Linked DNA regions of Homo sapiens. The protein of the gene in region 1 interacts with the protein of each later gene in a pairwise test. Each region holds a gene or a part of one and is shown on either strand. Other genes may lie near its edges.

The links.
Region 2: the proteins of ZFP64 (region 1) and L3MBTL2 interact in binary tests that used the Homo sapiens proteins (3 or more experiments, as listed by UniProt).
Region 3: the proteins of ZFP64 (region 1) and FAM124A interact in binary tests that used the Homo sapiens proteins (3 or more experiments, as listed by UniProt).
Region 4: the proteins of ZFP64 (region 1) and MFAP1 interact in binary tests that used the Homo sapiens proteins (3 or more experiments, as listed by UniProt).

What each region holds. Positions count from the first base shown.
Region 1 is NC_000020.11:52,188,775-52,195,949, forward strand, and holds the start of ZFP64 (zinc finger protein 64), read right to left. Parts: upstream 3,006-7,175; 5' UTR 2,863-3,005; coding exon 2,817-2,862; intron 1-2,816. UniProt on the Homo sapiens protein: May be involved in the regulation of mesenchymal cell differentiation through transactivation of NOTCH1 target genes.
Region 2 is NC_000022.11:41,215,292-41,222,325, reverse strand, and holds part of L3MBTL2 (lethal(3)malignant brain tumor-like protein 2), read right to left. Parts: intron 6,188-7,034; coding exon 6,064-6,187; intron 5,295-6,063; exon of another isoform or gene 5,204-5,294; coding exon 5,124-5,203; exon of another isoform or gene 4,482-5,123; intron 4,468-4,481; exon of another isoform or gene 4,374-4,467; coding exon of another isoform or gene 4,104-4,373; intron 2,908-4,103; coding exon 2,790-2,907; intron 1,593-2,789; coding exon 1,458-1,592; intron 1,128-1,457; coding exon 1,039-1,127; intron 1-1,038. UniProt on the Homo sapiens protein: Putative Polycomb group (PcG) protein. PcG proteins maintain the transcriptionally repressive state of genes, probably via a modification of chromatin, rendering it heritably changed in its expressibility.
Region 3 is NC_000013.11:51,217,943-51,225,423, reverse strand, and holds the start of FAM124A (protein FAM124A), read right to left. Parts: upstream 3,027-7,481; 5' UTR 2,923-3,026; coding exon 2,855-2,922; intron 1-2,854.
Region 4 is NC_000015.10:43,803,990-43,807,722, reverse strand, and holds the end of MFAP1 (microfibrillar-associated protein 1), read left to right. Parts: intron 1-2,257; coding exon 2,258-2,347; intron 2,348-2,446; coding exon 2,447-2,629; 3' UTR 2,630-3,231; downstream 3,232-3,733. UniProt on the Homo sapiens protein: Involved in pre-mRNA splicing as a component of the spliceosome.

The DNA.
Region 1 (7,175 bases):
ATCCTGGCTAACATGGTGAAACCCCATCTCTACTAAAAATAAACAAAAAAAATTAGCCCGGCGTGGTGGCACACACCTGTAATCCCAGCTACTAGAGAGGCTGAGGCAAGAGAATTGCTTGAACCCGGAAGGCGCAGGTTGCAGTGAGCTGAGATTGTGCCACTGCACTCCAGCCTGGGCGACAGAGCGAGACTCCGTCTCACATAAAAAAAAAAAGATAACTCGTGTTTATAAGAAAATTTAGAAGAAACTTATAAAGAAGGGGAAAATCACTCAATATTTCCATCTCTGCCTACCATGAATATTATAAAATATTTTTTTCCATTCATTTTCTTTACACTTAAAAGTTGCGTAAGATGGCTCACGCCTGTAACCCAGCACTTTGGGAAGCCGAGATGGGTGGATCACAACAAGAGATCAAGACTATCCTGGCGAACATGGTGAAACCCCGTCTCTACTAAAAATACAAAAATTAGCTGGGTGTGGTGGCACGTGCCAGTAATCCCAGCTACTCAGAAGGCTGAGGCAGGAGAATTGCTTGAACCTGGGACGTGGAGGTTGCAGTGAGCCAAGATCATGCCACTGAACTTCCAGCCTGGTGACAGCGAGACTTCATCTCAAAAAAAAAAAAAATTGCATAAGATCATAATATTGTAAATATTCAGATCATAGTATTGTAAAACTAATCCTTTTCCTAATTTTTTTCCTTTTTTTTTTTGAGATGGAGTTTTGCTCTTGTTGCCCAGGCTGGAGTGCAAGGGCACGATCTCAGCTCACTGCAACCTCCGCCTCCTAGGTTCAAGCGATTCTCCTGCCTCAGCCTCCGGAGTATCTGGGATTACAAGCGCCACCACCACGCCAGGCTAATTTTGAATTTTTAGTAGAAATGGGGTTTCTTCATGTTGGTCAGGCTGGTCTTGAACTCCCGACCTCATGTGATCCGCCCGCCTCAGCCTCCCAAAGTGCTAGGATTACAGGCGTGAGCCACCGTGCCTGGCCCTTTTTCCTAAACATTGCATAAACATTGTGCTATATCATTAAAATCTCTTCATATATATATGATTATTTAATGGCAATACATTATTCCATGGTGTCCATGCGTCATAATCTTCTCAGCAACAATAAGGTATTTACATAATTTCCAATTTTTCCCAAGTTAAATGATACAAGACTACCTTTGTGCATATATGGTTAGATAAAATTATGCCTCATAATTTTCTGAAAATTTGTAAGATATTTACATTATGTCCAATTTTCCCCAGGTCTAGCTAAGACAAGAAATCTCTGTTCAGAAATACAGTTTGGTTGACTTGCTAAGGAGACTGGGCTGAGCACTGTGATAAGCCATCTTGCAGGGATACACTTAAGCACTTTGCAATCAATGGATGGAAGGAAGGAAACCTTTTCTTCTCTGGCAGATACTGAGATACCCATGGAACTAACAAGGAAACAAGGAAGTGAGACATGAAGTAGCTTGCATTGCTGACGATTCCTTAATGATGGAATAGGACTGACACCCAGAATGAAAGGATTTTCATAACAGATAATGTCACTGGTATGTGGAAAGTGCAAAAGTAACGACATAGACCTTCGTTAGAATCTTGACACTGTCGCTTAACAACAGTGACTTTAAGCGTGGGTTTTCTCATCTGAAAAATGGGAGGAGAGGTTTCTAATCCATGGTTTTTGTTTGTTTTTAATTTCTCCAAGAAAAAACACGGGCTTGTTATGAGAATTAAATGGGATGGTGCTCGTACCAGCACAGTCCCCCCTCCCCGCCAGTCCCCCAGCATGTTACCTGCTGGGTTCTTACTGAGGTACACTATTTAAACATGGACATATCTGAGCCCCACCTAGGAGATACTGAGTCATAACAGGGTGGGGTGGGGAGGATGGTGTTTAGGAAAATCTGTGCTTTTCACAGTAATGCAAGGAATACACCGCCAAGTTTGGGACCCAGTGTCTCCCAAACTGTTAACAGTAGCAGCTAACAAGCTGGGAGCTTACTATGTGCCAGATTTTCTGCAAACCCCTGGTAGATGGGTTCTCAAACTTCATGTGCTTCAGAGTTGCCCAGGCAGCTACGAAGGACAGCGGATCCCCAGCCCCACCCCCGAGATTGAATGGGTGGGGCCCAGAAAGCTGTTTTAAAATACACGCTCTCGCTCCCAGGTGGCTGGTTGCACTCAGTCTCTGGACCACACTTTGGGAAACAATGCACCGGGAGAAACCAGGGACTTGAAAAACGCTGATGTCCTCCTCGGTTAAATAAAAACTGAACCCCAAACCCAAATAAAGCGACCACGGCCCCGTTTTCCATTCAGATCTCCACCCTTAATGAGGAAAAGGCTTTGCAATGAGCCGGCAGGACCTCGTGAGACCTGGTGATTCCCCCAATCTCCAGGCTCTAATTTTGAGCCACTGAGGCAGAAGTTTTCCCATCAGTGTTGCCCCGTTTACCCTAGATTCCTCCCTTTCTCCTGCCCGCCCCAAACTCCGCCTGATGGGGCGGGAATGCCCTTAGGGGGTGGCGATTGTCTGAACGGCGTGCCCTCCCCCACTGTTCCCTTCCAAGGGGTCTCGCAAGGCTGGAGAGCGCCCCCGGTCTTGCGCCAGGTCGGGTGCGCCCCCACCCCAAGCCCACTCCGGCGCCCCCTGCACAGCGCGCCCGCCGCGGTCCCCGAGACGCGGCTCCGAGCCGTCACCCCGATTTCGGGGCCCCGGGCCTGCTGGCTGCGTCGCAGACGTGCTTGGGCCCGGGCCCCGGAGCGCGCACTGGGCCCCGGAGCGCGCACTGCTCCCGGAAAAGCACTTACTTTGCACCGAGCCCGCGAAGCTCTCGCCCTCGCTGCTCGCGTTCATGGCCGCAGACTGGGAGGTCCCCGGCCGGCCGGGATGCCAAAGTGGGGGACGCTGATCTACATGGTGCAAGGACTTTTCCTTTTATTTTTCCACACCCCCCACCCTGCCTTCTCCCAACTCTGCGAGGCGGGGAGGACGGATGTAAAGCAAGCTGCACTTCCGCTGCCTAGAGGGCGCTGGCCGGGCCCGGCGCCCCAACCTGGCTTTGCAGCAGCGGCTCCCCGGGGAAGCGGCGGGCGAATCCCGAGGCCCAGGCCCGCGGAGCCCCCCAACGCCCCCGGGGAGCTGGATGGCCACGCGCGTCCCGGCGTGCTGGGCGACCGCGGGTGGCGAGGGATGCGCCCCTGCCCGCACTCTGCGTTCTCCGCGGACGCGATTGGCCTCCCCGGCTCGGGGCGCCTTTTGCACCTGCAACCCCAGGCGTTGGGCCCCCAGCGCGGCCGTGCAGCAGCGCTGCTCCCGGGACGCCTGGGTGGTTTGCGGGGAGACCCACGTGCGGCTGCCGTTGCGGGGTGGGTGCGCGGGGCGCGGCGAGCTCCGGAGAAACCCAGGTTGGGCGTGAGCGCTGGGCAAATCAGCAAAGCGCTGGGCGGGTCCCTTGCCCCGCTAGGGAGACTGAGAGGACCGCGAAGAGGTGGGGTCGTAGCGCGGAGGGACCCCTGCTCCAGGAGCTGCCAACTTTATCGTGCATCGCAGTCGCCTGAAAGGCTTGTTAGAACACACGCTGTTGGGCCCACCCTAGCGTTTCTGCTTCAGTAGGTCTGGGGCGAGGCGTGAGAACGAGCATTTCTAAGTTCCCAGGTGATGCCCCTAGTGTTGGTCGGCGTCCACACTCTGAGGACAGTGACCTCTCTGCTCTGTCCCTCATGTCTTACTACTACTGTCTCCCCCGGGCTCCTGCGTCAGCCCTATTGTCTCTCTGCCGACCCTCCCAAGCCTCAGACCTCTCCCAGCCTCGAGGGATTTGCCCATAGAGTCTGTCCTGCTTCTGAAGGTCAGCATTCAAATTCACACTCAGGGAGGCCATGCTTGGCCTAATCTAATCATTCTAATATTGCAGCCCCCTCCTCCTCCCCCAACCACTCCCTGTCTCCTTCCTGTTTTTTTCTTTTTCTTTTTCTTTTCTTTTCTTTTCTTTTCTTTTCTTTTCTTTTCTTTTCTTTTCTTTTCTTTTCTTTTCTTTCTTTCTCTCTCTCTGCCTCTCTCTCTTTCTCCCTTTCTTTTTTTAGAGAGGGGGTCTTTCTCTGTCTCTCAGGCTGGAAGAGTGGTCGGATCCTAGCTCATTGCAGCCTCCAACTCCTGGGCTCAAGCAATCCCCCCTACAGGCGTGGGCCACCACCCTGGCTCACTTTTTAATTTTTATTTTTGTAGAGATGTTGCCCAGGCTGGTCTCGAATTCCTGGCCTCAAGCGATCCTCCATCAGCCTCCCAAAGTGCTGGGGTTACAGGTGTAAGCCACCATGCCTGGCCTGCTTTGTCCTTAAAAGGTGTTAGATGGAACATATTATGTATCTCGAGTATATCTGCTTAGATATAATTTAGTTGTATATTATCTGTGTTCTCCTCCCCCTTATTTTCAGTAAGTCCCTGTAAAAATGGGGATTAAAAAAATCTCTTTGCTTCACTGATGTAGTCCAGTGACTTGGCTGGTGCCTGACACATAGTAGGCTTAGTAAATATGGCTTGTATAATGAATGGGATTTTCCCTGCTGCTGCCTCTAAGGCTTGGTTTCTGCCTGCAGCAGCTGTTTATTCTCAAGTGTTTGTGAAGTGCCAGGCACTGGGCTAGCTGCTGGAGGTAGACCAGGGAGGCAGTCAACATGAAATAATCAAATCAGTACTGTAAATATATATATATTTAATATATAATATTTAATATATTTAATATATATTTATATTTATGTATATATATATTATATATAAATATATACAATATATATTATATATAAAATATTATATATTATATATTATATATTTATATATATAAAAAATATATATAAAACTTCCTTTTTTTTTTTTAACCTTAAGTTCTGGGATACATGTGCAGAACGTGCAGGTTTGTTACATAAGTATACATGTGCCATGGTGGTTTGCTGCACCTATCAACCCATCACCTAGGTTTTAAGCCCCACATGCATTAGGCATTTGTCCTAATGCTCTCCCTCCCGTTGCCCCCCACCCCCTGACAGGCCCTGGTGTGTGATGTTCCCCTCCTGTGTCCATGTGTTCTCAACATTTTGCTAGTGATAAGGGCTCCAAAGACCATAAAATGGGGCTGTAATAGTGGCTGTAGAACTGGTCATAGCAGGCCTTTCCGAGCAGGTAATATCTGAACAAGGAGCCGGGGAGGATGCAGCCATGTGAGGATGAGGGGGGAGCAATTCCAGCCTGAGGAACTGGTGGGAGCAAAAACCCTGGGGCAGGAATGAGCTAGATGTAACTGGCTGTGGCCTGCCAGTCCCACTGCAGATCACACCACTCTCACCCTGCATTGCCCAGGCAGCTCCACCAGGCTCCTTGCTGTTGTTGCTCCTCCCTCTGCCTGGATTGCTTTCCTGGTCTTTGCAGGACTGGCTATTTTAGGTCATCCAGCATCAAATGAAATGTCGCCTTCCCAGAGAGACCTTTCCTATGTCTTACCTAAAGTATTCACTCTCCCTGCGACTCTGCGACATCACCTTCATGATACCTGTCTAGCTAACATGACCCAGCAGAGCACCGCAGCTTACGGCAATATTTATTTTTTATTGCTTGATGAATGTTTACATATGTGCACACCTGGGAAGTCCCCTTCCAAGACACACATTTCCAGCCCTGGTCGGCTCCCTCATGCACCTTCCCAGCCAATAATACTATTCTGGCCAGGCAAGGTGGTTCATGTCTGTAATCCCAGCACTTTGGGAGGCCGAGGTGGGCGGATCACCTGAGGTCAGGAGTTCTAGACCAGCCTGGCCAATATAGTGAAACCCCATTTTCTTCAGTACAAAAATTAGCCAGGCTTGGTGGCGCACACCTGTAATCCCAGATACTCCAGAGGCTGAAGCAGGAAAATTGTTTGAACCCAGGAGGCGGAGGTTGCAATGAGCTGAGATGGAGCCACTGCACTCCAGCCTGGGTGATGGAGCGAGACTGTCTCAAAAAACTATAAATAAATAAAATAATACTATTCCTACTATCCAATCTTGCAGAGGTCACCATTCTAACTTTTATTGTCACGATTCCTTTTGTTGAGAGCAATATATCTCACATTTGCCTGAAGAGAAGCATCATCTGGAAGGCTCACTAAAGAATGAGTTCTTGGGTTCCAAGCTATGCTTACTGCATCAGAATTTTCTGGGGTAAGACTTGGTAATCTGCAAATATCTCAAAAGTGCCCCAGGTAATTCTTATCATGATGTAAGTCTGGGCCTTACTGGTTTGGTGGTTAAGTGTGTAGGCCCTGGAGTTAGGCTATGCCACTGCCATGCAAATCCTGGAGTTGCTGAACTAGGATTAGTTGCTTAACCTTGAATAGGAAATTCAACTGCTCTGTGTCCCGGTTTTCTGTAGCTTGGAGATAATAGTAGCACCTAGTTCATTAAGCTGTTTTGTAGGAGGAACCAATCAATATCTGTAAAGTGCTTAGAATAGTGCCTGACTCATATAACTCGGCATAAATCCTAGCTATTATTATCTTTTAATTATTTTTGGTTATTATCTGTCTCCCTACCATGTAAGCTCCAGGAGGGCATAGACCTGGCCTATTTTATTTACCTGTATCCTCTGGGGCCTAGAACAGAGCCTGGCACACAGGCATCCTCAGTTCATTTTTTATTGTGAAATGATTTCATGCATGTTTCCATGAGCTCCATTTTAACCTTTTGCTACTATGTCCAGCCAACCTTCTCTATTACACATCTTGACCACTGCAACAGTCTTTTTCTGGTCTGAAAATGTCCTATTTTCATTTCTTATTTTTCTTTCTATACTTTTAAAAAATGTTATTTTTCAACATAAGCTCCATCAAGATCAACACACTCTTATTTATTTATTTAGAGACAGAGTCTCGCTCTGTCACCCAGGCTGGAGTGCAGTGGTGCGATCTTGGCTCACTGCAACCTCCACTTCCCAGGTTCAAGCGATCCTCCCACCTCAGCCTCCTGAGTAGCTGGGATTACCGGTGTGTGCCACCACGCCCAGCTAATTTCTTTGTATTTTTGGTAGAGACGGGGTTTCATCATGTTGGCCAGGCTGGTCTCAAACTCCTGGCCTCAAGGGATCTGCCTACCTTGGCCTCCCAAAGTGCTGGAATTACAGGTGTGAACCACTGCACT
Region 2 (7,034 bases), on another chromosome or scaffold:
ACCGAGGCTATATTACAATTACTTGTGTGCATGGCTTTTGTTTCCTCTGCCAGACTAGAGATTTCTGGATGGCAGGGTCTGTATTCTTTGTATTCCCACAGTGCCTTGTAAACAAGTATGTAAGGCTGGGCATGGTGGCTCATGCCTATAATCCCAGCACTTTGGGAGGCCGAGGCAGGTGGATCACTTGAGGTCAGGAGTTCGAGACCAGCCTGGCCAATATGGTGAAACCCCATCTCTACTAAAAATACAAAAATTAGCCAAGTATGGTGGTGTGTGCGCACCTGTAATCCCAACTACTCGGGAGGCTGAGGCAGAAGAATTGCTTGAACCCAGGAAGCGGAGGTTGCAATGAGCCAAGATTATGCCACTGCACTCCAGCCTGGGCAACAGAGCGAGACTCTATCTCAAAAAGAAAAAAAAGGCTGGGCGCGGTGGCTCATGCCTGTAATCCCAGCACTTTGGGAGGCCGAGGCAGATGGATCACGAGGTCAGGAGATTGAGACCATCCTGGCTACCACGGTGAAACTCCATCTCACTAAAAATACAAAAAAATGAGCTGGGCGTGGTGGGCGCCTGTAGTCCCAGCTACTTGGGAGGCTGAGGCAGGAGAATGGCGTGAACCCAGGAGTCAGAGCTTGCAGGGAGCCGAGATCGCGCCACTGCACTCCAGCCTGGGGGACAGAGCGAGACTCCGTCTCCCAAAAAACAAAAAAGTATGTTAATAAAATCTATTGAGTGAACACTTCTGAAAAATTCTATGAGCAAAGGTAAGGTTCCGGAAGAGCAAAAGGCAGACAAAGCAGCATGACTGGAGCAGTAGGAGCAGAGTCTGGGTGGGGCAGTGGCCGACGCCAGGCTAGAAAGGCAGATGGCAACCACGTAGCAGCAGCATTTGTCTCTAGCCTTGCAAAATGTGGAGCTGCTGAAGATCATCAGGCAAGGGGTCTTAGGTAACATGCTCCAGTGAGTGGCATGCAGGATGCAGAAAAATGGAAGAGCGGAAGGAGGCACATCAGTTAAGGGCTCACTGCCGACCTTGATGTGGAAATCCACGGGAAGCGTCCTGGAGCCCACCAGCCGTTTCATGAGGTAGCCCTTCCAGTCGGTGAACTTGGCATGGATGGCTGTGGAGGCACCAGCAGAATCCTGGTTACACAGACTGACAAACCTCCACTGACAGGGGCGCTAGCGCCGACCCAGAGTGGGGACCCCTCAGCAGTGGGGACTGAAAATAGCTGCCTCTTCAGGCCAGCAATGACTTCATCTGAGAACATCAGATTCCACACGTGGATCTGCCCCCAGGCCTCTGGGATGGGGAGGGCAGGAAGCCAGGGGGCAAGTGGATTCTGTTCTAACAAGACAGAGGACTCCCATTCTACCTAACACAAGCAGAGGACTCTCCCTCTACCAGGGGCCCTACGGGAACAAGAGAGGAAATGTTCTCATCAACTCACTCCGTGGGGGCACTAGGATCTTGCTGTTGATGGCACACCAGCCAATGGGGTGGACATCCACTGTTCCCAGGTTGCACCAGAAGTCATGGCTGGCGTCATTTTCAAAGCCTTCATACCGAAGCAGCACCCGATACCCTGAAAGGAAAGGAAAGGGCACCTGTGAGGGAGGGTGAGCTGGGGAAGGTATGTTCTGTTTTTTTTTTTTTTTTCTGAGACGAAGTCTTGCTCTGTCGCCCAGGCTGGAGTGCAGTGGCGCCATCTCAGCTCACTGCAAGCTCCACCTCCAGAGTAGCTGGAACTACAGGCGCCTGCCACCACGCCCGGCTGATTTTTTTTTGTATTTTAAATAGAGACGGGGTTTCACCGTGTTAGCCAGGATGGTCTCGATCTCCCGACCTCGTGATCTGCCCTCCTCGGCCTCCCAAAGTGCTGGGATTACAGGCGTGAGCCACCGGGCCTAGCTTGGGGAAGGTATGTTCTTAAGCCTTCTCTTTTCTCTAGCCTAAGCTGGACTTCTGGCACCTATACTTCCAGGCAAGTGGATTCCTGTTGTCCACAACAGTCCTAGCCAAACAAATTCATGCTCCTAGTTCGGAAAGCATTATGGAATGGTGCTGAGAGTTAATTCTCTATAACCTGATCATCCTTGGAATGAATTTTACTTTTTAAATTTTTTCATTTTTTATAGAGACAGTATCTCACTATATTGCCCCGTCTGGTCTCGAACTCCTGAGCTCAAACAATCCTCCTGCCTCTGCCTCCAAAGTGCTGGGATTAGAGGTGTGAGCCACGAAACCTGGCCCTGGAACAAACTTTAAAAATTGGGGTTTCCAGCCAGGCACGGTGGCTCACGCCTATAATCCCAGCACTTTGGGATGCAGAGGATCACCTGAGGTCAGGAGTTTGAGACCAGCCTGGCCAAGATAGTGAAACCCCGTCTCTACTAAAAATACAAACATTAGCCGTGTGTGGTGGCCAGGTGGCCTGTAGTCCCAGCTATTCGGGAGGCTGAGGCAGGAGAATCGCTTGAACCCAGGAGGTGGAGGTTGCAGTGAGCCGAGATCGTGCCACCGTACTCCAGCCTGGGTGACAGAGCAAGACACCATCTAAAAAAAACAAAATAACAAAAACAAACAAAAAAATTTGGGGTTTCCAAGCCTGCCAAGCTCTGTGTTCCCTTCTCCGGTAAAAGAATCCTTAGAAGTGGGGCAAAAATTCCAGTGGGTGGGATTTTTGTTTTATGAAGCCAACTCCTGCCTACAACACTGTTCACCCATCTAGAGATGTCACTCTGCAGACACATCCCTGGCCCTGCCCTGGCCAAACACTCACCTGCTGTCTGGATGACAGAGGCGATCCAGTACACCCGGCTGGGGAGCACAGCATCACTGTTGAGCACCTCCACCTTCATCCCTTTCATCACATCCTCCCACTGGTCATAGAGTGGGACCTGTGTGGCGATGAGAGTGTACCGAGAGAGTGAGCTAACTGTGCTAGCAGGGGAGACAGACTGCCTCACGGCCTCAGTCAAGTCCTCGTTTGCACCTCAACTTTTCACATCACCCACTGTGTGCAGAACCAGCTACTAGAGATAAAGAGATGAGGTCTCCTGTCCTTGAAGAGCTAAGCCGGGAGTAGAGGTGGAGGTGGTGGGATGCAGGGTGATGGCTAGAGACCCAGAGTCAGACAGAACCGAGTCCTAAAATCTTTATAGGACTGGTTTCTTACTGTATCATTTTGGGCACATGATGCCTTGGTGAGCCTCGATCCCTTCGTCCCTGTGCCAGCCCGAGCAATGGCAGGGCGCTGATATTAGCACAAATATACTTTCCTTCAATCATCATACAAACCTGGGCTGTGGGCATTATGACCCCCTTGTTTACACACAGCCATCCACCTGCAAGTTTACTCTCTACCTCCCCTCCTACTGAAATGCTCCAGGGGGCCAGGCATGGTGGCTCACGCCTGTAATCCCAGCACTTTGGGAGGCCGAGACGGGCGGATCACCTGAGGCTGGGAGTTCGAGACCAGCCTGACCAACATGGAGAATCCATGTCTCTACTAAAAATACAAAATTAGCCGGGCGTGGTGGTGGCACATGCCTGTAATCCCAGCTACTCCGGAGGCTGAGGCAGGAGAATCGCTTGAACCTGGGAGGGGGAGGCTGCTGTGAGCTGAGATAGTGCCATTGCACTCCAGCTCTGGGCAACAAGAGTGAAACTCCCATATCGAAAAAATAAATAAAATAAAATAAAGTGCCCCAGGACAGCACTGGACTGTTTCAGTTGCCTTCCCAGTACCTAATCCTCACTTTCCTGCCAATGGTACTTTTGATTCTCCTTTGGGAGAATCACTTTTTTTAGAGTCTTGCTCCGTCACCCAGGCTGGAGTGCAGTGGCGCAATCTCAGCTCATTACAACCTCCGCCTCTCAGGTTCAAGGGATTCTCCTGTCTCGGCCTCCCAAGTAGCTGGGATTACAGGTGCCTGCCACCACTTCCAGCTAATTTTTGTATTTTTAGTAGAGATGGGGTTTCACCATGTTGGCCAGGCTGGTCTCGAACTCCTCACCTCAGGTGATCCACCCGCCTCGGCCTCCCAAAGTGCTGGGATTATAGGGGTAAGCCACTGCGCCTGGCCAAATTCACCTTTTTTATTCTCAGCCCTGGCTTCAGCCAGTTGAGGTATCCCATTCCATCTCCCTGGTCACTTGAGTTTAGTTCATCACAGAACCCGGACACAGTTGCGCTAGCCCAGGCACGCAGGGGCAGGCTTTTTACAAAGCAAATTGGATTATATGTGTTAGACACAAGGATGATGCAACTCCCTGGAAATGAAAATGCTGAAACTATTAGAGAATTCAGGGCAAAAAAGAGGCTCCCCCTCCAGCAGGAAGGAGGTGCACCTTCATTAGCCATTCAGAGACGAGAGGAGTGAGTTAGCTGAGTCAAGAAGCAGCTGTCATTGTTCAGGGCACTCCCCAGAGTTCAGTGGCAGTTCTGAAAGGAGGAGAGGAAGTGGCTTACTCTGGGTAAAAGACTCCCTACTTCCTCAAGACTAAAGAGGCCTCCTCCTGGATTTCCCGGAGCTTAGGGACGTGGTGTGAAGACAAAACAAGAGTGCTGTTGTGGGCTCTGCTCTCCCGGCCTGCAGGCTCCACACGTCACAGCTGCTGGATATTCGGTTCTTGCGCTCAAGCCCCGCCCCTAAGGGCCTTGCCCTTCGTTCTGGCTTTTACATGATCCGCATCGAGGAGCCTTTTACAGAAGTGGCTCCAGGAGCATCCACATCTGCCTCTCGGGGCCCACGGGGCCCAGGCCAGCTACAGAAGCACCCTGCTTTCCATGGGAAAATGCTGCAAATGGGGGAGAAAGGAGAGAAGGGTTTCAGACTGCAAAGACCCTTCGACATCAGCTAGCACCAAGTTCCATCATGTAAATAAACTGAAGGGCTTCAGACCGGGAGTGAAGCCAAGCAGGTGATAGAAGTGTTTGTAGGAGGATTTTTTTGACATAAACATGAAATGGAGCGAGTGGTAACGCCATCCGTCTCCTGCCCAGACCTCCCCACTGTCACTGTCCAGCCTGAAGCCGCCCTGGTGAAGCAGGTGGAGGAGCAGCTCCAGGCCCGGCTCCCCGGCCTCCCTCCCTCAGCTCCAGGGCACTCACGTGCTTGAAACAGCTGACGGGAGCAGCCTTGTAACTGTGATCCTTCAGGAACTTCCCCCAGTCGAAGCCCAAGACCAGAGCTGCAGAGCAGAGAGGACGAGTCAGACTAGGAGCCTGCGCAGCAGCCACTCCAGGAGCCTGGACCCCAAGGGCCCTGTGGGACCTGCAGAGGTAGGTCCCCCACCCCCAGCAGCCCCTCTCACAGCGCTGCCCACGACACCCTCCTTCACTCCCATACCTGATCCACCAGTGGCCATGAGGGACCACTGTTGAGGACTGAATTGAAAGGTGGCAAGACTCTCAGGAGTAGAGGAACATTCAAAGGGAAATTTCTCGCCCTTCTTCCCCCAAAGGGGAAAACTGAAATATCCCTGGGCTTAAATTCCTCCCTCCGCCCTGAACCTGATTGGCCACACCCAATCTAAATGTGGGGGAGGGGGTGCGCACACACCAGGGCCCCTCCAACTGAGCTCCGGCCTGCTGAGCTCAATTTCAGTTAGAAACTCAGAACAATGATAGCAGAGTTGCTTTATGCATACATTTAACTTGCTTAGCAATTGCTACACACTCAGAGAGAGGCTCCTTTCCTTATCCCACCACCCCTCTCCAAACCTGCCTTCAAACCATATCTGGGCCTTCGTTGCCCCAGGGAAACAGAAACCAAAAGGATAAAAGCAAAGAGAAACAAAAACAGCCAATTCTTGGCTTTTGAATTATCATGGGTAGGAGTCCTGATAATTTAAGGGTGTTTGAAGGCATTTTTCTGGGTAATTTCCACAATACCCAACAGGTGAGGAAGATGCAATCCGCAGTGACCCTGACTTAGGGCACTTTCTACCTGGCCGGTTTGCCCAGTCTTCATTCCTAGGAAAGGCCACCCCAAACCCAGTCTCCTCCCCAGCCACGGCAGCTTCCTAAGCAGGGCCCTCTGCTATCTTACCGTCTTGTCCTGTTGGTGTCCCATCTGCCAGCTGTCCTGTCCCTTGAGAGTGGAGGAAGGCTCCAATTTTGGCAGACCAGGCAGCCTTGTGCAGGACTTTGGCTTTTTTGGTCGGTGGTTTTCCCTGGAGAGGAGGACAGAGGCTATGTGTAGCCTGGCGGCTGGGATCATGAGTCTGGATTTGGGCCGCCAAGTTGAAGTCCTGGGCTTGGGCCAGTGACTTAACCTCTTTTGGGCTTCAGTTTCTTCATGTGTGAAACAGTGATGACAATAACAATCCTGAGCTCAGGGGGTGGTTGTGGGGAAGCGTCGGGGGTGCTAGGGGGTGCTAGGCAGTGCTGCAGAGCAGGGAGAGACCCATGTTCTATCTTTTAAGCCTTTCTGTCCTCCCAGATTCAAGTCTCAGTCATCTCCTTCCTCCAGTGTCGCTACTGATAGATCCAAAGCAAAGAATGGGCCTCACAGGGGCCCAGAAACGCTCATGAACTGGGAGGCAACCTTCTGTACATACGCGAATGTTTGGGAGAGGGTCCACATAGGCGAATGTTCGGGAGAGGGTCCACATAGGCGAATGTTCGGGAGAGGGTCCACATAGGCGAATGTTCGGGAGAGGGTCCACATAGGCGAATGTTTGGGAGAGGACCCACAGCTTTCATTAGGTACTCAAAGGGGGTCCTCCCTTTCCAAAGGGAATGGCCACTGATCTGGTCTGTATTTTGTAACTTAAGTACTGAACAGGAAGGCCAGGAATTTACTAAAGAGATCAGTGAAGCAGAAATCTGGGTTTAAGTCCCAAACAAACCTACAGGGCAAATCCCAGTTCTACAGTTTTTAGTTGTATACCTTTAAGTAAGTTACTAAAATTTCTGAGCCTTTATAAAAAGGAATTTTTTTAAAAATCAAATTTTTTAAGATCGTTAATTGGACTGAGAATGTCAAGCCCTTAGCAAGTACTCCCAAACCATAGCTAT
Region 3 (7,481 bases), on another chromosome or scaffold:
TGAAATACATAAAGGCTTAGAACAGTAGGTGGCACATACTAAATGCTAAGAAAGTGCTTGCTATTACCTTCAGTTGATTTAGTCTCTCCCAGAGCTTCCATTGCCATTTTTAGGTAAATAGTACCCAAATGCAATGTCATCATGAAGACCTCCCTTCTGAGTTCCAGACAGATATACCCAACTGCTGATTCATCATCTTTACTTGGATGTCTTGCAACACCTCAGACACAGTGTGTTGAAAATGAAATGTCTCATATCTTGCCCAAACTTGGTTTGGAATAGATCACCAGCTACTTTGAGAATCTGATAAAAAAAAAAAGTTCTCTTCTCATACAAATTCACAAAGCACATCATTTTGCATACAACTTGAAGGAATTCATGGACCCCAAATTAAGGATCACTGCCTTAGCAGATGTGTCACTTGAGCTGAGTCCTGAAAGAAGAGTAGAGTTTCACCTGGCAGACAGGCAAGTCAGGTGGGAAGGGCAGAGCTGGCAAAGAGGGCAGCTTGACAAAGGCGAGGAAACAGAAAAATACAAGGCGCAAAGAAGGACCTGCTGAGAAACAAGGCCAGGGAGGGAAGAAGGGACTCCATAACAGGAGTCAGGGCATATAGGCCACGTTAAATTCCTTGCATTTGTAGATAACAGAGCCATAAAAGTTTGAAAGGGAGAGACATGATCAGATTTGCATTTTAAAAATACTAACGATAGCAAACACTTGTTGTCTTCTATGTGCTTTCTACATAATCTCTGTGAAAGCTGGATAGGGTAAGGGGTGGGGGCAAGCTCTGGAAAAGCAGGGAAACGATGAACAGCTTTTTGATAACTGAAATTCAAGGGCTCTGTGAATATATGGCAAACACAAAACTAATTAGCATACATTGAAATGCATGCTATTTTACCTTTAGCTTAAGGATACTAGTGATACAGTAAGAATTCCTTTTTTTTTGGAGATGGAGTTTTGCTCTTGTTGCCCATGCTGGAGTGCAATGGCGTGATCTCAGCTCATGGCAACCTCCGCCTCCCGGGTTCAAGCGATTCTCCTGCCTCAGCCTCCCGAGTAGCTGGGATTACAGGCATGCGCCACCACACCTGGCTAATTCTGTATATTTTTTAGTAGGGATGAGGTTTCTCCATGTTGGCCAGGCTGGTCTCAAACTCCCGACCTCAGGTGATCCGCCCACCTCGGCCACCCAAAGTGCTGGGATTATAGGCGCGAGCTACCGCACCTGGCCAAGAATTCTTTAAACAATTCTGTCCTGTTACAACTACACATTTTAGTGACAGAGGCTGAGAACAGAAGCTCTGGTGTCAGCAGGAGTGGGGAGCCCCTCCCAGGAGGCCTGGCCGCTGTCATGCTGATGTCCAGATCCTGGGGCGATGTCACCCCCTGGGTCCAGGACTTCCTCTCCCTTCTCTAAGACAGAGCCCTTGAAAAAAATATCAGTTTTAGGTGAGTTCTGCAAATTGAAAATGAATAGACTAGTGAATGCTTTATTTAACGCAGTTACAAATAAGCTGGTTAATTTTGCTTTGTTTCTTCTATTCATGGTCCAGCTAACTAATGGCAGAAAAAAAAAGCCAATAATCTTGTTAAAGTTGATAAATGCCACTTACACAAAGAGTGGGAAGAAGAAAGGAAGTTTGGCATTTAGCATCAGGTTACTCCACCAGATTATAATTGGGTGCTGTAGAGAGCTATGAATAAGTTTGGATAACAGAGAAAGCCCATTGCTGGGTGAATGCCCTAGGGAGTAAAGTCCCGCATTTGGGCTAGGAGTGGTGGGGCAGGAGGGGCCCTGTGGGGAGCTTTGCCGGGGTTGGGTTAGAACTCTGGGTCGATCGTGGGCCTGGATTCTCTACCTGCCCTCACAGGGTTGCCAAATCCTGAGATTAGTCTAAAACCTCTCCGACCTTCCAGGAATGAGGCTTTCTGTAGTCTAGGCAGCTCCCGCCCTCCCCCAGGATTACTCCAGATAGGAAAAAACACCCTTTCCTCCTGGGTCAGTACCCGCGGCCTGGATGTGGTGCTGACTCTGCACAGGAAAGTCCTTTAGAGACAGAGGCTGCCTGGAAGCCTTTATAACGACATTCATCTCCTAAAAGGCATTTTGTCTTTTCTTCCGCTCAGGAAAACAGTGTTTGGAGACTAACTAATTAGTCTCCAAAGGTTTGAGCCCATTGTTTGAGTCCGCTGAAGCGAAGAGAATATTAAAAAAAAAAAAAGGCAGGGCTAGATCCTAATCCCAACACCATCTCCATCCCGCCGGTACAACAGGCCAAAGGGTCCAGCTGGGACAGGTGCACTTAGAGGTGAGGAAGTTCGGCGGGACTGGAGGAGTCGGGGAGGGGGACTCGGCAGCACAGATTAAAGTCCCACGATGAAGCCATATAACGAGAAATGCCATCCTCCTAGCCGACTTCGGAAAGACTTTTAGGTGCGGGTGTCCCACCCTGCTTTTCTTCCTCTCCCGATCTCCAGGGCCGGACTCCAGGGGGCTCCGGAGCTACAGGAGGAAAGTCCCCGAGGAAGGAGGAAACAAGTGCAAGAGCATCTCCTGTCTCTAGCGATGCAGACAAGGGGTCTTTGCATCCGCCTGGCGCTCTGCATCGCCTCACAGGATGGGTGGGCTTGCACTGAACCTTGAGTCCTTCCACTTTCCTCCCCCCGGGTGGTGCCCGCCCTGCCCAGGGCAGCGCGGCCCGCCCAGGAGAGAGCGGGGGATCCGGCAGGAGGAGAAGCCCCGCGCCCCGGTCCCGTCGCACGGATCAGGAGGGTCCCCGTCCGGGGAGGAGCCGCCGCGCAACTCGGAGAGCGCCCCCCGCCCGCGGCCCGGCCCGGCGCGGCTCACCCTCCGGTCTCGGCGCCCGAGTCCACGCAGTCGTCCTCCTCGCCGCCGCCGCCCGCCTTTGGGTCCATGGTGCACGTCCCGGCCGCGCTCGGCTTGCGGGCGCCGTCGTGACCCGGGGCGCCCTCCCTCCCGGCCGCCCAGTCCGAGCCGGCCGGGCTCCCTCCGAGCGTCTGGCGGCCCGGGAGCCGGCAAACAACTCAAGCGCCAGCCGCGAACCCCGCGCCGCGCCCTCTCCCGACCGCGCCCGGCTGGGCACCCGCGCCTGCGCCCGCGCCCGCCCCGCCCCTCGCCGTCCGGCGGGACCCGCGTGTGCGCGCGGCGGTGCGCGGGGAGTGCGCGTGCGAGCGCGTGTGCGAGCGCGTGGGGGGCGTGTGAGCGTGAGTGGCCGAGGTGTGTGGTCTCACACCCGTGCGTCTGTGCATGCGGTGTGATGTGGGTGCGGTGTGCACTCCTGGTTGCACGCGACTGTGGCTGTGCTGAGCGCGTGTGCCCGTCTGTGGTGCGTGACCGCGTGTGTGTTGTGGGGGCGGGGTAAGTGTGCACACGAGAGCCGCCTCTCTCCCCCAGGCCCACAGTCCGGGAATCCCGAGCCCCAGGGCTTGCCACGAGGTTCCCCACCTCCTGATCTGGGAGGAGCACTGAGAAAACCAACCTCAGCGCATCGTGAAAGCTGGGAAGGATTTGTTTCCCTTTTGGGACCAATTCGAACACCTGGGTGTTTTCTTATAGTTTCTGAAGAATTGCTGACGCCAAATTCATTATCACCTTTCTCAGTACACGTCTGAGCGGCATCCCACCCCCTCAACTTGCCAGTTTACAATAGGTGTCATGCATTCTTTTGCTACTTAAAAAAAAAAAAGCCTTTAAAAATAATTTAAAGAGCATTGAATGAACCTGCAATTCACGGGTTGTTGCAGCAAGGGGATAACCTTAGGGTGAGTTAATGATCGCTATTGGAGGGGCTCACCTCCTATTAGGAGGGTGAAGAGGGAGGCAAGTTGGCAGGGCGGGCGGAAGGAGACTTCGAACAACTTGAATTTAGTTCTGACAGCCCTATCCAAACCATTGGGAGGAATTGTCCTTACTGAGCCTAAAATTTCTTGCACCCCAAACAGCAATGGACATATTGGTGGGCATTAGCTGAAAGAAAGGAGCGTGCCAGTTCTTCAAGGGAGATTCCCCTGCCCATTTTTTATCTTGCAGCCAGGAGGGAACCTGCCTTTATTTACTCTGTGTGGGAACAATTCAAACTGTGCCTCATTTGATCCTCAGGGAAGTGCTGTGAAACAGGCTTACTTTTCTATTTTACCGTCAAGGAAACTAAACCCTACCGAGTTCGAGTGCCTGGTCCCAGGACACCCTATCAGTGAGCAGGGAAGCCAGGTAGTCCACTTAAGGTAGCTGGAGCCTGTGCCACTTACCTAGAAGGCTGATGAGTGGGCCAGTTGTATCCTCAGGAAGATGGTACTAAGGAAAAGGCCAGGGAAGAAAGGGTGAAATCAGCATGACTTTTAGAAGATGGGCTTTGGAAAATGAGATGCTATTTAAATGATTTCTGCCTTTCTCAAATATCCAGAGAAAGGGCATGCCAGACCAAAACCTCAAGCCACATCTCAAAATGATGCATGGATTCAGGTTCCCCTCGCCCACAGGGGACACAGTGTTATCATTCATCATTGGCATAGCAGTCTAATGGCAACTCAGTGATGCATTTATTATATGGAAGAGAAGCTTGAACGGTATCACTGTATTCTAGTGATGCATGGCTTTCTGCTTCAGTTCCCAGGTTTTAAAAGCCTCACTTCATTTTTTGCTTGTTTGTTTGAGACAGGGTCTTACTCTGTTGCCCAGGCTAGAGTACAGTGGCACAATCACAGCTCACTACAGCCTCCACCTCCCTGATTCAAGTGATCCTCCCAGCCTCCTGAGTAGCTGGGACTACAGGCGTGCCACCATGCCCAGCTGAGTTTTAATTTTTTTGTAGAGAAAAATATGTTGCCTAGGCTGGTCTCGAACTCCTGGCCTCAAGTGATCCTCCTGCCTCGGCCTCTCAAAGTGCTGGGACTATAGGCATGAGGCATTGCACCTGGCCCATTTTTTGGGAGGGCGGGGTATAAGAGTTGCTGGCAGGTAACCAGCACAAGAACCTTCAAGTGATCACTGCAGGGTATCTAGCCCCTAAACTTACATGGTTCCCACACTCCATAGTCCAGCTGTTTAATGTCAGTCTCTTTAATCATGGGGGTACGATGCTCTCCTCCACCCCTTTAAGATGGGGACAGAAAAGTGTCACTGGTCTGCTTAGGGTGTCTTGACTGCTGCCCTAAAGATATTCCTATCAGAGCCTGAGAACAGTGTTGGGGGAATACTGAGGTATGGCAGGAAGTGTAACAGGCTAGGAAACATGAAACCTGACTTCTGGATCGGAATCCATCATGTACTAGTTCTTTAAACTCTCGATAGAGAAAAAGGATAGACCATCAACTGTTTCCAAAGTTCTTACTACATGTCAGTCTTTGTGGTAAGGATTTTACATACATGATTTATTTAAATCTCACAAAATTCTTGTGAGGCTTCCTTTGTCCTTAAAATGGGGTTGTTGATATAAATCTCACAGGAGATTCAAAGCCCCTTAGAAACTACGAAGCATATGAATAAAAGATATTGCTGATTTTTTAATCACTTTTTCTCAGAAAGGTCTGAACATCAATCTTTTGTTGTATTTCACCTATAAAGCATGTTTCAGTCTCTGTTTATATTATTGCATGTGTTGGTGTGTTAGAAAACAAGGCAGTTCATTCATTTATTTATTGAACACTCAGTGTGTACTAGGCAGGGGCTGGTGCTGGGGATATGTTGAGGAATAGGCCAGAGCTATTTTCTGGCCTAATGGAGCTTTTTGGGTCAAGAGAAGGCAAGGCCAATGGGCATGGCTGGCCTTCCCACCAGGCACCTGAGAGGTATGTAGTGCCATCAGCCATTAGAATAGGACTGGAATGCCAAAGCCCTGTCTTGGAGGAAAAAACTTAAGATAATCGGATGGTAAATAGAGTCCATCAACTTTGCTGATGAAAGAGATGGATTAGTAATTAAGAAGGCCAAGAGTAATTGGGAGGGGGCCAAAAAAAGAGGAGCTAAGTAGCTTTAAGATAAGAACTTTACAGCAAGAGACTGAAAACAGATAAAAATAAATATCTCCAGAACATAGAATTTGCCCAGATTTGGATTTCAGTTTAGAGGGAAGCTAGGCCACTTTCATTGCATCTGTACCATTTGCTATTAGGCGAGCTTGATTTAGTCCCTTAAGTAAAATATTTGTTAGGGTTATCCAGTAGCAAATAGAACCAGAAAATATATTGGTCTGGAAACTTTTGCTCATTCATTTTAATTAATTAATTACTTTTTGAAAACACATTTCCCAGAAACAAAAATTACAGGTTAAAGAATGACATTAAAATTAAAAAAAAAGAAATCTCTTTCTTCCAAGACTCCAGAAGAGTCTGTCTAATGTGAAAAATAAATATTATGATCATGAGAAGAAAATTTATAAACTATTGACAAATCTACTTAGACAAAGAAAGCCACTAGCCCTACATGCAAACATAAGGGGACCAGATGGCAAAGGGATAAATGAAATGAAAGATAAACTGTTGTGTTGGGAAATAATCTCATTAAAATATAAATGACTCCACTTTGATAAGGAAGAGCACAGATAGTGGTCCTGCCTTGGAGGCTTCCCAAGAATTCTCAGCCTGCAGTTTATACCCGGACGAGATCTGGAGTCCAAGTCAGACATCAGACCACCCACCCACTGTGACCCCCAACAACTGGTGGGTGGGTGGGCGTAAAATGAGATGGGAATGTGAAAGGCTGGCTTCCGGAAATGTGCTGTGGAAATTTAAGAATCAAAGGGAACCTTAGACTCAGGGCACTGCCCTCCAGTCCCCCGTGAATAGACACGCCTCCTGGGAACTGTGGCTAAGTCACCCATTTATGGTTCTACGAATAACCTAGGCTTGGAAAGCTTTGGCCTTCCGTCCACTTTCATCCTGACACTTTCCTTCAGGCACCTGGTCCTCCCCAGCTCCAACGGCCTGATAGTCAGCTTGGCCTGCCATTACAAAGTACCACAGACAGCATGGCTTCAACAATAGAAGTTGATTTCGTCACAGTTCTGGAGGCTGGAGGTAGAAGATCATGGTGTCAGCAGGATAGGTTTCTTTGGAGGCCTCTCCTTGGCTTGCAGACGGCTGCCTTCTTGCTGTATCTTTCTTCTATCTGTGTGCATCCTTGGGTCTCTTTGTGTGTCCATATTTCCTTTTCTTGTAAATTAAACAGTCAGATTAGATGAAGACCAACTCTAATGGCCTCTTTGTAACTGAATCACTTTCTTTCTTTCTTTCTTTCTTTCTTTCTTTCTTTCTTTCTTTCTTTCTTTCTTTCTTTCTTCTGTCTCTCTCTCTCTCTCTCTTTCTTTCTTTTTTTTTTTGAGATGGAGTCTCGCTCTGTCGCCAGGCTGGAGTGCAGTGGCACAATCTTGGCTCACTGCAACCTCCACCTTCCGGGTTCAAGCGATTCTTCTGCCTCAGGCTCCCGAGTAGCCGGGACTACAGGTGTGCACCACCAC
Region 4 (3,733 bases), on another chromosome or scaffold:
TGTTATATTTGGTAGAAGATTGAAAGGGTTGACGTAAAGGTTGTAACATTTAAGCATTTAAGATGTATAATTTTGGGCCGGGCGCGGTGGCTCACGCCTGTAATCCCAGCACTTTGGGAGGCCAAGGCAGGCGGATCATGAGGTCAGGAGATTGAGACCATCCTGGCTAACATGGTGAAAACCCATCTCTACTAAAAATACAAAAAATTAGCTAGGCGTGGTGGCGGGCGCCTGTAGTCACAGCTACTTGGGAGGCTGAGGCAGGAGAATGGCGTGAACCTGGGAGGCGGAACTTGCAGTGAGCCGAGATCACGCCACTGCACTCTAGCCTGGGCGACAGAGTGAGACTGTATCAAAAAAAAAAAAATTAAATATATAATTTTTTTTTTTGTCACCTAGGCTTGAGTGCAGTGGTGCGATCTTGGCTCACTGCAACCTCCGCCTCCCGGGTTCAAGCAATTCTCCTGCCCCAGTCCCCCAAGTAGCTGGGAATACAGGCGTGTACCACCACGCCCAACTAGTTTTTGTATTTTTAGTAGAGACGGGGTTTCTCCATGTTGGCCAGGCTGGTCTTGAACTCCTGACCTTAGGCGATGTGCCCACCTCAGTATCCCAAAGTGCTGGGATTACAGGCGTGAGCTACTATGCCCGGCCAAGATGTATAGACTTTTTGACATTCGGTGCTGGGAAGACATTCCAGGTGGAGACCAGCAGGAGTGGAGGCAGAAAGCATCAGCTGTGAAGGGAAGCGGCAAAGAGAACTGAAAAGGTGGATTAAGGCTGTATAATATTTGGCCTTGATTACTACACAGAGGAGTTGTATTCATTTATTTATTTATTTATTTATTTTTGAGATGGAATCTCGCTCTGTCACCCAGGCTGGAGTGCAGTGGTGCGATCTCAGCTCACTGCAACCTCCACCTCCTGAGTTCAAGTGATTCTCCTGCCTTGGCCTCCTGTGTAGCTGAGATTACAGGTGCGCGCCACCAGGCCTAGTGTTTTTTGTATTTTTAGTAGAGACAGAGTTTCACCATGTTGGTCAGGTGGGTCTTGAACTCGTGACCTCGTGATCCGCCCGCCTTGGCCTCCCAAAGTGCTGGGATTACGGGCGTGAGCCACTGCGCCCAGCCTAGGTGTTGTATTCATTTAATAGACAACCATTGAAGTTTTTGAGCAAGGCAAAGATTATAATGAGTTACAGTCTAGAAACATCAGTGCCATGACAGTATGTGAGACTGATAGTAGAGGAAAACTAATAACCCAGGTGGTAAGAGTTTGTAAGATGTGGCAACTGATTGAATGCACACAGAGGTTACTCAGTTTTGAATCTAGGTAATCGAAGAGTACGCTGGTCCTACTAACAGAAAAGTTAAAGAGAAGAGGTTGATATGGAAAGGTTAGGTATTAATAAATGGTTTTCACTTTAGACGTGCATTTCAAGTCCCAATAAAATATCCAACTTATGATATATGAAAGCCAGTAAAAAATCCAGGATTGCAGATTTGAGAGGCCTATGCAGAGTTGAAGTCACATGAGTAAACAAACACATTGAGTGCAGAGAATAAGCCAACCTTCAAGACACGTCTACACTCAAGGAGAAAATTAGGCATAGTTGCATGCACCTGTAGTCCCAGCCACTCAGGAGGCTGAGGTGAGAGCATCGTTTGATCCTGGGAGGTCAAGGCTTCAGTGAGCAGTAGTGACCCCACTGCACTCCAGCCTGGACATCAGGACATCAGAATGAGACGCTGTCTCAGGGAAAAAAAAAAAAAAAAAGGAGAAATACAACAAAGGAAAAAGAATATCATCTCGGCCGGGCGCAGTGGTTCACACCTGTAATCCCAGCACTTTGGGAGGCCAAGGTGGGCAGATCGCAAGGTCGGGATATCGAGACCATCTGGGCTAACACGGTGAAACTCCGTCTCTATTAAAAATACAAAAAATTAGCCGAGTGTGGTGGCATGCACCTGTAGCCTCAGCTACTCGGGAGGCTGAGGCAGGAGAACTGCTTGAACCTGGGAGACGGAGGTTGCAGTGAGCCAAGATCGCGGCAGTGCACTCCAGCCTGGGCAACAGAGCGAGAGTCCGTCTCAGAAAAAAAAAAAAGAATGTCATCTCTTCAACTAGATGTAAGCTCTTGAAGAAAGGCTCAATACCCTCTGCTTTCTCTGTATCCCTTATTGTAGAGTTTAATAAATTTGTGGTTTGAATATATAGGAAATAAAGCCACAAGATTGATAAGATTTTTTTTATACAGGATGAGGATGAAGAAGTATACAAGAGAGATTTCAGCGCTCCTACCCTGGAGGATCATTTCAATAAAACCATTCTTCCTAAAGTCATGCAGGTATGGGGAACCTTAATAACATGACAGAGAAAAGTGATGTATTGATAGCTGAGGCATGGTTTGTTTGGTGGTATAACTCATCATCCATCCTTCCCTCAGGTCAAGAACTTTGGACGCTCAGGTCGCACCAAATACACTCACCTTGTGGATCAAGATACCACCTCCTTTGACTCAGCTTGGGGCCAAGAGAGTGCCCAGAACACAAAGTTCTTCAAACAAAAGGCAGCTGGGGTACGAGATGTATTTGAGCGGCCATCTGCCAAGAAGCGGAAAACTACCTAGGGTCCAACTGCTTATTCTTCCAACTGTGGAACACAAGGGGAGTCTCAGCATCTGGTCCTTGATTTGGTTTTTTCATTGTTTCCTTGGCCCCTGTATCCAGATATTGGACTTACTGCTATACTTGTGATACTGGGTAGCCCAGACTTTGAAGGTGCTTTGTGAGGTTTGGACTCATGCTGAGAAACCCACAGGAAAGCACTGTCCAGGTAGGATTAGAGGCTTCCCACTTAAAACTATTTCTGAGAAATCTTAGGTTTTATCACTGCTATGGTTTCCCATATTTACTTGGGACTGTTCTGACTTTCTTTTTCCAGCCCTTAGCTTGGGTTAGAAAAGTGGACATGTAAGTGAACAATGCATTACTTCTACCTTAGGTTTAGGAGTAATATACCCGGAAATCTAAGCTCATGGAAACATGTTTTCCATTTTTGCTTGGAGTCCGTTTTTCTAGTTGTACATACTTTTTGATCCATATATGTGTGCATGTCAAGAAATAAAAGAATCACACAACAAGGAGATTTTTAGCATGATACTGGAAATAAAATGTCCAAGCTGACAAGTATTAATTGCCTATTAAAGTAAAAGATAACAATTGTCAGGCAGAAGGTGTTTCACATTTTGATAATTCCCTTTGATCTCAGAAACAAGCTCAGGTACTAGCTTGGCTTTAGGTAGCATCTGGATTTATTCCATGACCAAATACAGATGTTTTTGAGAAGACCAAGGTCTTCTCACATCCTTTAAATGTCCCACTGGAAGAATCAAATAGTTTAGTGTCGTACGATAAAAATGAATGCAAATAATTACTATGAGGTGGTAAATACATAAAGATGAACACAGGTACAAGTCACTGTTGTGTGGGATACAATCTAAGAATTATCCTAGAGTCAGAATGAGGGTAAGGCCTTGAAACTCTTGGAGAAATGTCTGTAATTGCCATTTGAGTGTCCTTACAGCAGACTCAGGGGCCGTTGCAGGGTTTTTTTTTTGTTTGTTTGTTTGTTTTAAAGAGACGGCTCTGTTGCCCAGGCTAGAGTGCCTCAGCCTCCCGAGTAGCTGGGACTACAGGCGCCTGCCACCATGCCTGGCTAATTTTTGTATTTT